2 separate regions of the Homo sapiens genome follow, and region 1 is linked to region 2. The links come from fine-mapping of genetic effects on gene expression. A gene starts in region 2. The other region holds a variant in brackets. All regions are shown on one strand. Distances are between the middles of the regions. Region 1 holds the start of TEKT1 (tektin 1). Region 2 holds the start of SAT2 (spermidine/spermine N1-acetyltransferase family member 2).

What was found.
Region 1: its variant is fine-mapped to the expression of SAT2 in thyroid (GTEx, PIP 0.97).

Annotation. Positions count from the first base shown.
Region 1 is chr17:6,828,033-6,833,345 of GRCh38, forward strand. TEKT1 (tektin 1) reads right to left here and starts at 3,697. Exons shown (of 8, transcript NM_053285.2): 1 at 3,617-3,697; 2 at 2,155-2,361. The coding sequence starts at 2,344. RefSeq lists a silencer at 3,660-3,709. The variant A/G (reference allele first, on the strand shown) is at 2,439.
Region 2 is chr17:7,625,699-7,631,071 of GRCh38, forward strand. SAT2 (spermidine/spermine N1-acetyltransferase family member 2) reads right to left here and starts at 2,123. Exons shown (of 6, transcript NM_133491.5): 1 at 1,872-2,123; 2 at 1,665-1,716; 3 at 1,445-1,528; 4 at 1,245-1,346; 5 at 1,055-1,095; 6 at 536-916. The coding sequence starts at 1,937. The coding sequence ends at 749. It overlaps SHBG (sex hormone binding globulin), which reads left to right and starts at 4,437. Exons shown (of 8, transcript NM_001040.5): 1 at 4,437-4,585; 2 at 4,718-4,809; 3 at 4,982-5,171. The coding sequence starts at 4,475. RefSeq lists enhancers at 1,502-1,551, 2,032-2,111 and a silencer at 1,762-1,821.

The sequences.
Region 1 (5,313 bases), 800 kb before region 2:
CTCCTTGGTTCAAGCGATTCTCCTGCCTCAGCCTCCTGAGTAACCGGGACTACAGATGCATGCCACCATGCCCCACTAATTTTTTGTATTTTTAGTAAAGACAGGGTTTCACCATGTTAGCCAGGATGGTCTCAATCTCCTGACCTTGTGATCCGCCCACGTTGGCCTCCCAAAGTGCTGGAATCACAGGCGTGAGCCACCATGCCCGGGCGCCTTCTCATTTTTAACACCTACCTATTTGCACAATTATTTAGAACAGGCCTATCTACAGGGTGGTATCAATGTAAGGGTCAACCTATTAGGAGAGCCTAACATCTAACATTGCTGACCTGAATGAAGGTTTCATTTACTGGAAATTAGAAAACTACAGTCCTCAGACCAGGTTTGATCCATAAACGTGTTTGTTCAGCTGGCCCAGTGTTATAAATAAATTAAGTCAGTTACCAACATTTAAAACGTGAATAAATTCCTGCTTTCCAGATTTTCTTGAAAAAATCGGACAATCAGGCAACACTGGGCTCATGTTCTTTCTTGGAAGCAATGGGTTGAAACTGAGTAGCAGCTTCCTCCTTAGATGGGGCACACGTTCTCCAGGTCCCCACAGTCCCTACTAAACCCTAATGCCTTACATTCAATCCCTATGCTACCTGCTTGGTCCCTATAGATAGTCGAGTTGGTTACCCCTGGTTAATCCCTTTTTGGCATTTAGCCGACGTTGGTTGTTTGTTTTGTTTTATGTTTATTTTTGTTTTGATTATTTAAGGATACTATCTTTTTTTTTAAATGTGCTTTCCTGAGATCTTTGCTAAAGAACGCTACCTTTTAAATACTGTTTTAGGCAGGGTGCGGTGGCTCGTGCCTGTAATCCCAGACTTTGGGAGGCTGAGGCGGGCGGACCACCTGAGGTCAGGAGTTCAAGACCAGCCTGGCCAACATGATGAAACCCCGTCTCTACCAAAAATACAAAAATTAGCCGGGTGTGATGGTGCACGCCTGTAATCCCAGCTACTCAGGAGGCTGAGGCAGGAGAAGCGCTCGAACCTGGAAGGCAGAGATTGCAGTGAGCTGAGATTGTGCCACTGTACTCTGGCCTGTGTGATGGAGCGAGACTCTGTCTCAAGAAATTTAAGTAAATACTGTTTTAAGTAAGGAATTGTCAAGAGAAAATGACTCCTTTTAAGACTCAAGTAAATGTTCTTCTCTAGAAAAACTTTTCCAATTTTTCACATCTACTCCGCCCCGTCTTTGTTCCCCTACCCCAGCACCTATCTGGTTATACACCTGTCCCTTGGTATCCTCAGAGGATTTGTTCCAGAGTCCCTGACAGACACCAAAATCCATGGATGCTCAAGTCTTTTATACAAAATGGTGTAGTGTTTTCATATAACCTATGCACATCTTCCCATATACTTTCCTTTTCTCTTTCTTTTCTTTCTCTTTCTTTCTTTCTTTCTCTCTTTCATTCTTCCTTTCTTTTTCTTTCTTTTTTTTTTTTTTATGAAACAGGGTCTTGGTATATCACCCAGGGTGGTCTCTAACTCCTGGGCTTACAGGATCCTACTGCCTCAGCCCTCCAAGTAGCTGGGACTAACAGCACATGCTACCACACCCAGCCAGTATACTTTAAATCATCTTCAGATTACTTATAATACCTAATACAATGCAAATACTATGTAAATAGCTGTTGAACTGTATTGTTTTTATTTGTATTCTTTAATTGTTGTAATCTTTTATTGTTTTTTTTTCCTAAGTATTTTGGACCTACAACTGGCTGAACCCATGGATACAAAGGGCTGACTGTATTCTGATGATTAATTTTTGTATCTTTATCCTCTTCAAGTTAGAAGCCCCTAAAAAGCAGAGATTCTGATCATTCCCTGTGATATGCCTAGTGTGTAGTACATAGATGCCCATAGATGCTCAATAACTGTGCATCAAATCAACAAATAAATGAATGATGGGTGGCTGAAAATCAGGCTGGGTTACCTTGTGTCTATCTTAGGGCAGTGAACTTAAACATAGAACCTGGAGAATACACATGATTTTCTCTAATATTCAAAAATAATATGTTGCCACATCTGAACATGACACTATAGCTAAACTCAACAGCCTCATCCTAGCATGTTCACGAATATGCCAAGCATGTTGTCTTACCTAGTTTCTTGTTCACATCGCTTTGAGATTTTCTTGTGGTCTTTTCAATTTCATCCACAAGCCTCTGGCTTTCTGCGACCAGGCGTTCTGATCGGGACCTTTGAGCGTCTGCTCTGTGGTACTGGTTCTTGTTAGCAATGTGCCACTCTGAGGGCAGGAACTTGGGTGGAGGTTGTAATAGTTTAGCCATTTGAGGTTTCCAAATTCCTGATCAAAAGCAGACTCTTTTAGATTAAATGAAAGCAATTTGTCCTTTTTTATGATAATTTTTATTCAAGGATGAC[A/G]TATATACGGAAAATTGCATAAATCATAATCTGTACACAAAATAAATCTATCTGTGTAGCCGGCACCCAAACCAAGAAACAAGCATTACCAGCATCTCTAACCTCCTCCCAGTTACTCCACCTCAAGCCCCTCAGGGTAACCAGTATCCTGACTTTTAACACTACAAATTCGTTTTGCTGTTTTTGAATTTAACATAAATGGAATAATACAGTATGTATTATTCTGTCTCTGACTTCTTTAGCTCAACATTATGTTTGTAAAATTCATCCATATTGTCTATATGATTGCAGTTTGTTCGTTCTCGTTGCTGTGTAGGTGCCGTTATATGAATAAAATCTAGCTGTCTTTTCTACTGTTTATGGATATTTGGGTTGTTTACACTCCAGGGCCATAATGAGAATGCTATTAATAGTCTCATACATGTCTTTTGGTGAACACGTGTATGCATTTTTATAACTCATTAGAATTGTTGGGTCATGGAGTAATGTTCTGCCAAACAGATGAGCCCAGAGATGTTTTCTTAAAAAAAGAAGAAGAAAAAGAAGAGGAAGAAGAAGGAGGAGGAGGAGGAGGAGGAGGAGGAAATGTAACATGTGTAAACTGACAACTGGGTATTGAACTTGTTCAACACATAAAAGAATCTGAAAACTTCCAGGACAAAGAAAAGGAGAGAACAGGAAGGGGAACAACACAGGGGAAGCCAGCTGGCAGAGGCTGTCGGCAGTGGAAACGCTAAAATTACCCATTTCATCTTCATACAACTCTGATGGACCATGAGAACTGCCTTCCTCAGACAGGGCTGAAATCTGCCCCCACTCCCATCTCTACCCTAAGGTCTGAGTCCCTGCTCTTAGGGGCCTCTGGATCTCTGAAGCCTTCACATATATAAGGATGAAACTAGAGTCAGATCTTGACTAGGCTGAGAACCTCAGCCCACCCAGCCCCCTCAGACAACATGGAGTTTCTCCGTTTCTTCCTAGCCCAGTCCCTTTTATGGCTTCTACCGAATTTATCTGAGTGTGGAGCCCAGCATTTAACCCAAGGCTCCTGGATAAGTCTGAATAGCCCCCAGAGAGGTGGGGACCTAAATTAGGGCTCATCCCAACGTCATAAGGATTTGGTTAGGCGGGGAGGGTTGCGGGTAGGGGTCGGTGGGGTGGGGTCATGGTTTACTTACCTCAGCGCCACACAGAACCACTACGCAAGCTCGGGATGGGAGCCTCCTTACCCCAACTGGAGCTTCCAGCTCTTGCAGAACAGAGAGGTAAACAACGCGGTCTCCATGACAACAAGTGACGCGTTGCCAGGGCAAAGAGGGCTGGTTCCGCCACTGAGCAGCCTGGCCAAAGGCTTAGCGCAGGCGCAAATTCTGCGGACCCCAGAGCCAGAGACCCAGGAGTGTGGCGTGTGGGAAGGGTAGGGCCAGATGCTCCGGCCACCTCAACCTACCGCGAAGACGCGGGGCACCAAGCAGAAGACAGCGGCCAAAGCCCCGAGCTGGGAGTCAGGAGACCTGCGTCTAGTCCGAGCCCTCCCGCGGGCGGGATCATCTCGGGTCGCGCTGTACCCCGGCTCTCAGACTTCCCGGCTGTACAGTGGGGTTGGGCTGGGCGATGCCTCCAGGACCTCGCAGTCGCAGGCGAAATTGAGGGTTAAAAATCAGGAAGCCAAGTTGATTGTTTCTGTAAGCTACAATGAGTTTCCTCCAGAGTTTGTATAGGTCTGTTACCACAACTGGCTTATTTCTGCGTGGGGCGCCCGATGGGGCACTCTGTGAGGGCAGGTGTGTGAGTAGAACGCCTTCAGGCAAACACTCCAGAAGTCACTCTGCATCCACTAGGAGATGGAAAATATGGGAGAAAAATTAAATCTGAGGGGATAGCTCCAGAAGATTTAATATTTGTCAAGTAGGACTTCCAGAAGGAAAGAAAAAAAGAGAGAGAATGGCAAAACAATTGTGAAAGTGAGAGAGAGATAACTTGAGCCAAAGACTCAAGTCTTTAGATTAACGACCCACCTGAAATTAACACACACCCCCATTCCTTACATATAGTCCTCCCTGTGGATTATGCATATAATCCATAGAGTGATTAGCTCCAGGATCCCCCTCAGATACTGAAATCTGCAGATTCTCAAGTCTCATATAAAGTGGTGTAGCATTTGTATATAACCTACGCACATCCCTAGATAGGCATACTTTACGTCATCTCTAGATTGCTACAATACCTAATACAATGCCTAATACAATACCTAATATAGTGCCTAATACAGTGCCTAATGCAATACATAATACAATACATAATACAACACCTAATACCTAATATAATACCTAATACAATGCCTAATACAATACCTAATACAATGTCTAACCATGCCTACTCATCGCTTCATTCGCATGGATTCAACATAGCACTCAGGGTGCAACAAATTCAAGTTTTGCTTTTTGGAGCTTTGTGGAATTTTTTTCCTGAATATTTTTTATTTGTGTGTCATCGCATCCAAGGATGTAGAATCCACGGATAGGAAGGGCCAACTTTATACCTATTCTGGTGGAATTTCTTAATTCAAAGAATAAGAAGAAAAAGAAAGAATAGGTATCAAGTGTTTCGTCTCTAACACAGGTGGCTAGAAATGATGGTTGCTAGAAATGATGCTAGGATAATGCCTTCAAATTCTATAGAAAATTATTTCAAATCTGGGATTCTACAACCAGTCAAAGCATTTCATGTATGAGAGCAAAATAAAAGATTTCTTTGGACATGCCAGTACTCAAAACGGTGAGCGTACATTCTTTATGGAAAAAAATAATAGAGCAAAAGTGAAAAATCCAGAAAGAAGAAGATACTGGACATAAGACATAGTGGAACCAACCCA
Region 2 (5,373 bases):
TGGCCAACAAGGTGAAACCCCGTCTCTACTAAAAATACGAAAATTAGCCGCATGTGGTAGCAGGCGCCTGTAATCCCAGCTACTCGGGAGTCTGAGGCAGGAGAATCACTTGAACCCGGGAGGCGGATGTTGCAGTGAGCCAAGATCAAACCTTTGCACTCCTTGCACTCTGGCCTGAGGACAACAGCAAGACTTGATCTCAAAAAAAAAAAAAAAGACTTTGGACTGGGTGCAGTGGCTCACACCAGTAATCCCAGCACTTTTCGAGGCCGAGGCGGACGGATCACGAGATCAGGAGTTGGAGACCAGCCTGGCCAGTATGGTGAAACACCGTCTCTACTAAAAATTAGCCGGGCATGGTGGTGCGCACCCGTAGTCCCAGCTACTCGGGAGGCTGAGGCAGGATAATTGCTTGAACCCGTGAGGCAGAGGTTGCAGTGAGCGGAGTTCGCACCACTGCACTCCAGCGTGCGCGACAGAGACTCTGTCTCAAAAAAAAAAAAAAAAAGAAATAAAAGAAAGACCCAACACCACATCAGGACATGTAATTCTTATTTATTTTTCACCCTCAACAAGGAAGAAAGGTCTCTCCCTCAATTCTGCTCTTCCAATACTTGAGGATAGGCACCCCTAACCCTCCTTCCTCCAGGGAGGCCTCAGCATCAGTGTCTGTGGACGTAGTCTCTGAAGAGTGCTTCAGCTGATGGGGAAGGAGAAACTCAAGACAGAGATCCTCCTAGGGATGGCGTCACTTTCCTGCCAACTTTCTCGTTGCCTCTCCTTGAAAGCAGAAGAAGTGCCAGCCCTCAGCTTCCGTCAGATCTTGGGCTCCTAGGGCCTTGTACAAGTCCATGGCCCTCTGGTTCCAGTCCAGGACGGCCAGGCGGAATTGGGAGCAGCCCTTATCCAAGGCCACCTGTGGGAGAAGACAACACTAACTTTTCTGGGGTCAAAAAAGAAAAAGGTTTTCTCACTCCCTCTTTCAACCCGGGTCCCCCCTCCATATACCCTTGCTTCTTCAGGTCCTCACTTGTCGCCCCACCCATCTCCTCACCTCAGCCACCTTTTTGATTATTTTGGAACCAATCCCTTGACCTGTTGTGGAGAGAAAGAGGCAAAAAATAGCTATTGTTTGAGCTGAAGGGGATCAGAAAATGACACCGGCTGGGCTCTGGGGACAGGGGATAACAGTGGGGTCTGTGGGGTGCTTTGCTCCCACCCCAGCCTCAGCTTCTGCCCAGTACCCCGATATTCCGGCATCACATAGATATCCTCCAGATAAATGGTGCGTCCCTTCCATGTACTGTAGATGAAATAGTATATCCCATAGCCCACCACGCAGGGCCCTGAGAGAGAGAAAAGGGGAGTAAGGCTTCTGGAAGCCTGTGGGGAGACCTCTGAGGCCGGCTGGAGAGGTGGACTTCTAAGGGCCAGGTGCTCTTACCCAGTAGCTTCCCGGGCGCTGGAAGAATCTCTGCTACCAAACAGTGATAGAAAGGATTGTCTCCAAAGCCATCTGCTCTCAGGGCTGCCGAGATTGGAGTTGTGACAAAGAGATAGAGAAAGAGGACGTGGGTGTATGCCCAGCCTGGAGCTGTCGCCTGGGGAACCCATCCCTCATTTCCTCCCCAGCCTCCGCCAGAACCTGGGCGCTGAGCCCCCACCTTCTTCACTGATCTTCACCTGATCCGAGAGTTTTTCGAATTCGGCTAGCTCCTAAGGCGTGGGTACGGAAGCTAGATTAGAGCAGAAGGGCCCCGCTGCTCCCCGAGCAGGTTCCCAAGGCGAGCCCCTCCCCCTGCCCCCGCCTCCTACGACCCCGCTCTGGCCGCGCCACTCTGACCCCCGGGTTACCGGCCTGCAGTCTTCACCCGAATCAGCCTCAGGATATCTCCACAGTCTCCCTCCTTGGCCTCTCGGATCCGCACGGAAGCCATCCGGATCCCCGCTGTCTGGGACCAAAGTCCCAGGGCCTCGCAAACGGCAACTAGACCCCTTAAAGGGCCTACGGACTTGGATCCTGAAGAGCCTGAGAGAGCGGGGTGGCGGGAGTCGGGGGGGACGGCGGGGTAGCCGCGGCCTGGTAAGTGGAGCTGGGATTCCGGCGCCGTACGGGAGGAGAGAGTAGGCCAGCGAGGCGATCCTCTGTCCGGGCATAGCCCCACCCCCTCGAATTCTGTCGCAGCAGGGGGCACAACTGTCAGCCAATCAGCTTGGAGAACAGGCACGGCCGCGTCCCCCCCAAGCCCCACCCCCGACAGCTGGATCTTGTGACTGGGCTCCTGGGTAGAGTTCAAGGTTGGAGTGAAGCGGCTTCCTTGCGGTTGTGTGGGTGTCCCAACCTGGGTCGAGATACCCCGCGGTTCAAAGGCTCCCCCGCAGTGCTTTTTAAATTGACATATGCAGTGATAACCTGCTTTAGCCTCAGGCTCACTCACCCGCCCAGACCCTGGGTAAGCCTTAAGACCCTCAGCTCTGAAAGCTGTTTCCTGCAGCTCTTGAGTAGCATGAAGTGTTACCTCTTGGGGGCATTTGCATTTTTTAAATGTTTTATTTTTATATTTATTTATTTATTTATTTTTGGAGATGGTGTATTGCTTTGTCGCCCAGGCTGGGGTGTAGTGGCGCGATCTCTGCTCACTGCAGCCTCCACCTCCCGAGTTCAAGCGATCCTCCTGTCTCAGCCTCCGGAGTAGCTGGAACTACAGTCGCGCACCGGCACGCCCGGCTAATTTTTTTTTCTTTTTTCTTCTCTTTTTTTTTGTTTTAACGGATTCTCACTCTGTCACTCAGGCTGGAGTGCAGTGGCGCGATCTCGGCTCACTGCAACCTCTCCCTCCTGGGTTCAAGCGATTCTCCTGCCTCACCCTCGGAGTAGCTGGGATTACAGGCATGGGCAACCATACCTGGCTAATTTTTGTATTTTTAGTAGAGACGGGGTTTCACTATGTTGGCCAGGCTGGTCTGGAACTCCTGACCTCAAGTGATCTGCCCGCCTCAGCCTTCTAAAGTGCTGGGATTACAGATGTGACCCACCAAGCCCGGTCTGTCATTTGCATTTTAAAATGGGTCATGGGGTGGGCACAGTGGCTCACACCTGTAATCCCAGCATTTTGGGAGGCAGAGGCAGGCGGATCACCTGAGATCAGGAATTTGAGACCAGCCTGACCAACATGGTGAAACCCCGTCTCTACTAAAAATACAAAAATTAGACAGGTGTGGTGGCGCATGCCTTTACTCCCAGCTACTCGGGAGGCTGAGACAGGAGAATCGCTTGAACCTGGGAGGTGGAGGTTACAGTGAGCCGAGATCGTGCCATTGCACTCCAGCCTGGGCAACAAAAGCGAAACTCCATCTCAAAATAAATAAATAAAATAAAATGCGTCAGGGAGGGTCGGGCCTTGTGGCTAATGCCTGTAATCCAGGTACTTTGGGAGGCTGAGGTGGGCGGATCATTTCAGGTCAGAGGTTCGAGATCAGCCTGGGCAACGTGGTGAAATCCCCGTCTCTACTAAAAACACAAAAAAATTTGCTGGGCGTGGTGGTGCGTGCACCTGTAGTCCCAACTACTAAGGAGGCTGAGACAGGAGGATCGCTTGAACTCGAGAGGCAGAGGCAGCAGTGAGCCGAGATCACGCCACTGCACTCCAGCCTGGGTGATAGAGCAAGACTCTGTCTAAAATAAAATAAAATAAAATAAAATAAAATAAAATAAAATGGGTCAGGGAGTGGGTGATTTCTACTGCTAGACTGTTTAGGCCCTGTAATAAATGGATAAGGGAAGATAACTGAGAGGCGGGGGGCAGGTCCCTTCTTAATATTCACTGAATCATACACACAGACAATACCTTCTTGGGAGACAGGCCTCAGAGGCCTGGGAAAAGACTGGGGGAGGAGTTCAGACCAGATGCCAGGCACTGTGCCTGCATTTTCTCAATGAACCCTCTTTCACAGTCACCCCGTAAAGTATTATTTTCCTCATTTTACAGACAAGGACACTGAAGCACAGAGGTGAAGTGACTTGCCCAAGGTCACTCAGCTAGAAATTTAGGATTCCATTATCTCATTTCTAGTCCTGATACAGGATGCTACTTGGGACGCAGGGGAGGACTGTTTCTAGACCTCAGGCCTGTGAATGCAGGCTCCCCGAGTGGACAGAAATCTTGGAGGACCTAGATCAGGCCCTAGAGGAGGAGAGGGGAGATGGAATATCCTCTCCCAGTTCAGAAACTTTCTCGGCAGTGGAGGATGATAGTGGAGGGGACTCTGTCCTTCACCCCATTGATCCCCAGAGGGGTGATAGCTGAGTCTTGTGACTGGGCCCCTGGGCAGGGGTCAAGGGTCAGTGCCCCTGTTTCCTTTACCCCCTCCTCCCCGGGCAACCTTTAACCCTCCACCGCCCACACGCAAGGCTGCCTGCCTCTACACATTCTCCCAAGAGTTGTCTGAGCCGCCGAGTGGACAGTGGCTGATTATGGAGAGCAGAGGCCCACTGGCTACCTCGCGCCTGCTGCTGTTGCTGCTGTTGCTACTACTGCGTCACACCCGCCAGGGATGGGCCCTGAGACCTGTTCTCCCCACCCAGGTGCAGGAGCGGGACAGGGCACTCAGCTCATGCAGTCTTCCCTTCTCTCCTCTGGCCCTGTAGCAGGGCCTCTCCCTCTGTCTGTCTCTGACATGTCCCTACTCAGCTTTGTTTGTTTTCTCTTTCTGATAGAGTGCCCACGACCCTCCGGCTGTCCACCTCAGCAATGGCCCAGGACAAGAGCCTATCGCTGTCATGACCTTTGACCTCACCAAGATCACAAAGTATGGGGTTGGCCTAGCCCTTGACCCAGTCCCCTGGTTCTGCCCTCTCTCCATCAGCTCTTCTCTTTTCCCTGTCTTCCTTTCCTTATCTGTGAACACCATCTCCCCCAAACCCACACTGGTTCTCAAAGGACACATGACATACACAATCTTTCCTTCTGTGTCCTTCCAGAACCTCCTCCTCCTTTGAGGTTCGAACCTGGGACCCAGAGGGAGTGATTTTTTATGGGGATACCAACCCTAAGGATGACTGGTTTATGCTGGGACTTCGAGACGGCAGGCCTGAGATCCAACTGCACAATCACTGGGCCCAGCTTACGGTGGGTGCTGGACCACGGCTGGATGATGGGAGATGGCACCAGGTAAGCTAGCTCTGGTCCTCAGGGGAGGGATGTCTGGAGCTGGTCTGAGGAAAGGGAACAAAACCAAGTTATTGGGCATCCCTCTACCACTGTCATCTCGTTTAATCCACACGAACCCCCACAAAGTAGCTATTCTTGGCCCCATCTTTTCTGATGGGAATTCTAAGGCTCAGTCAGTATATAAGTGACAAGAGCTGAGTGA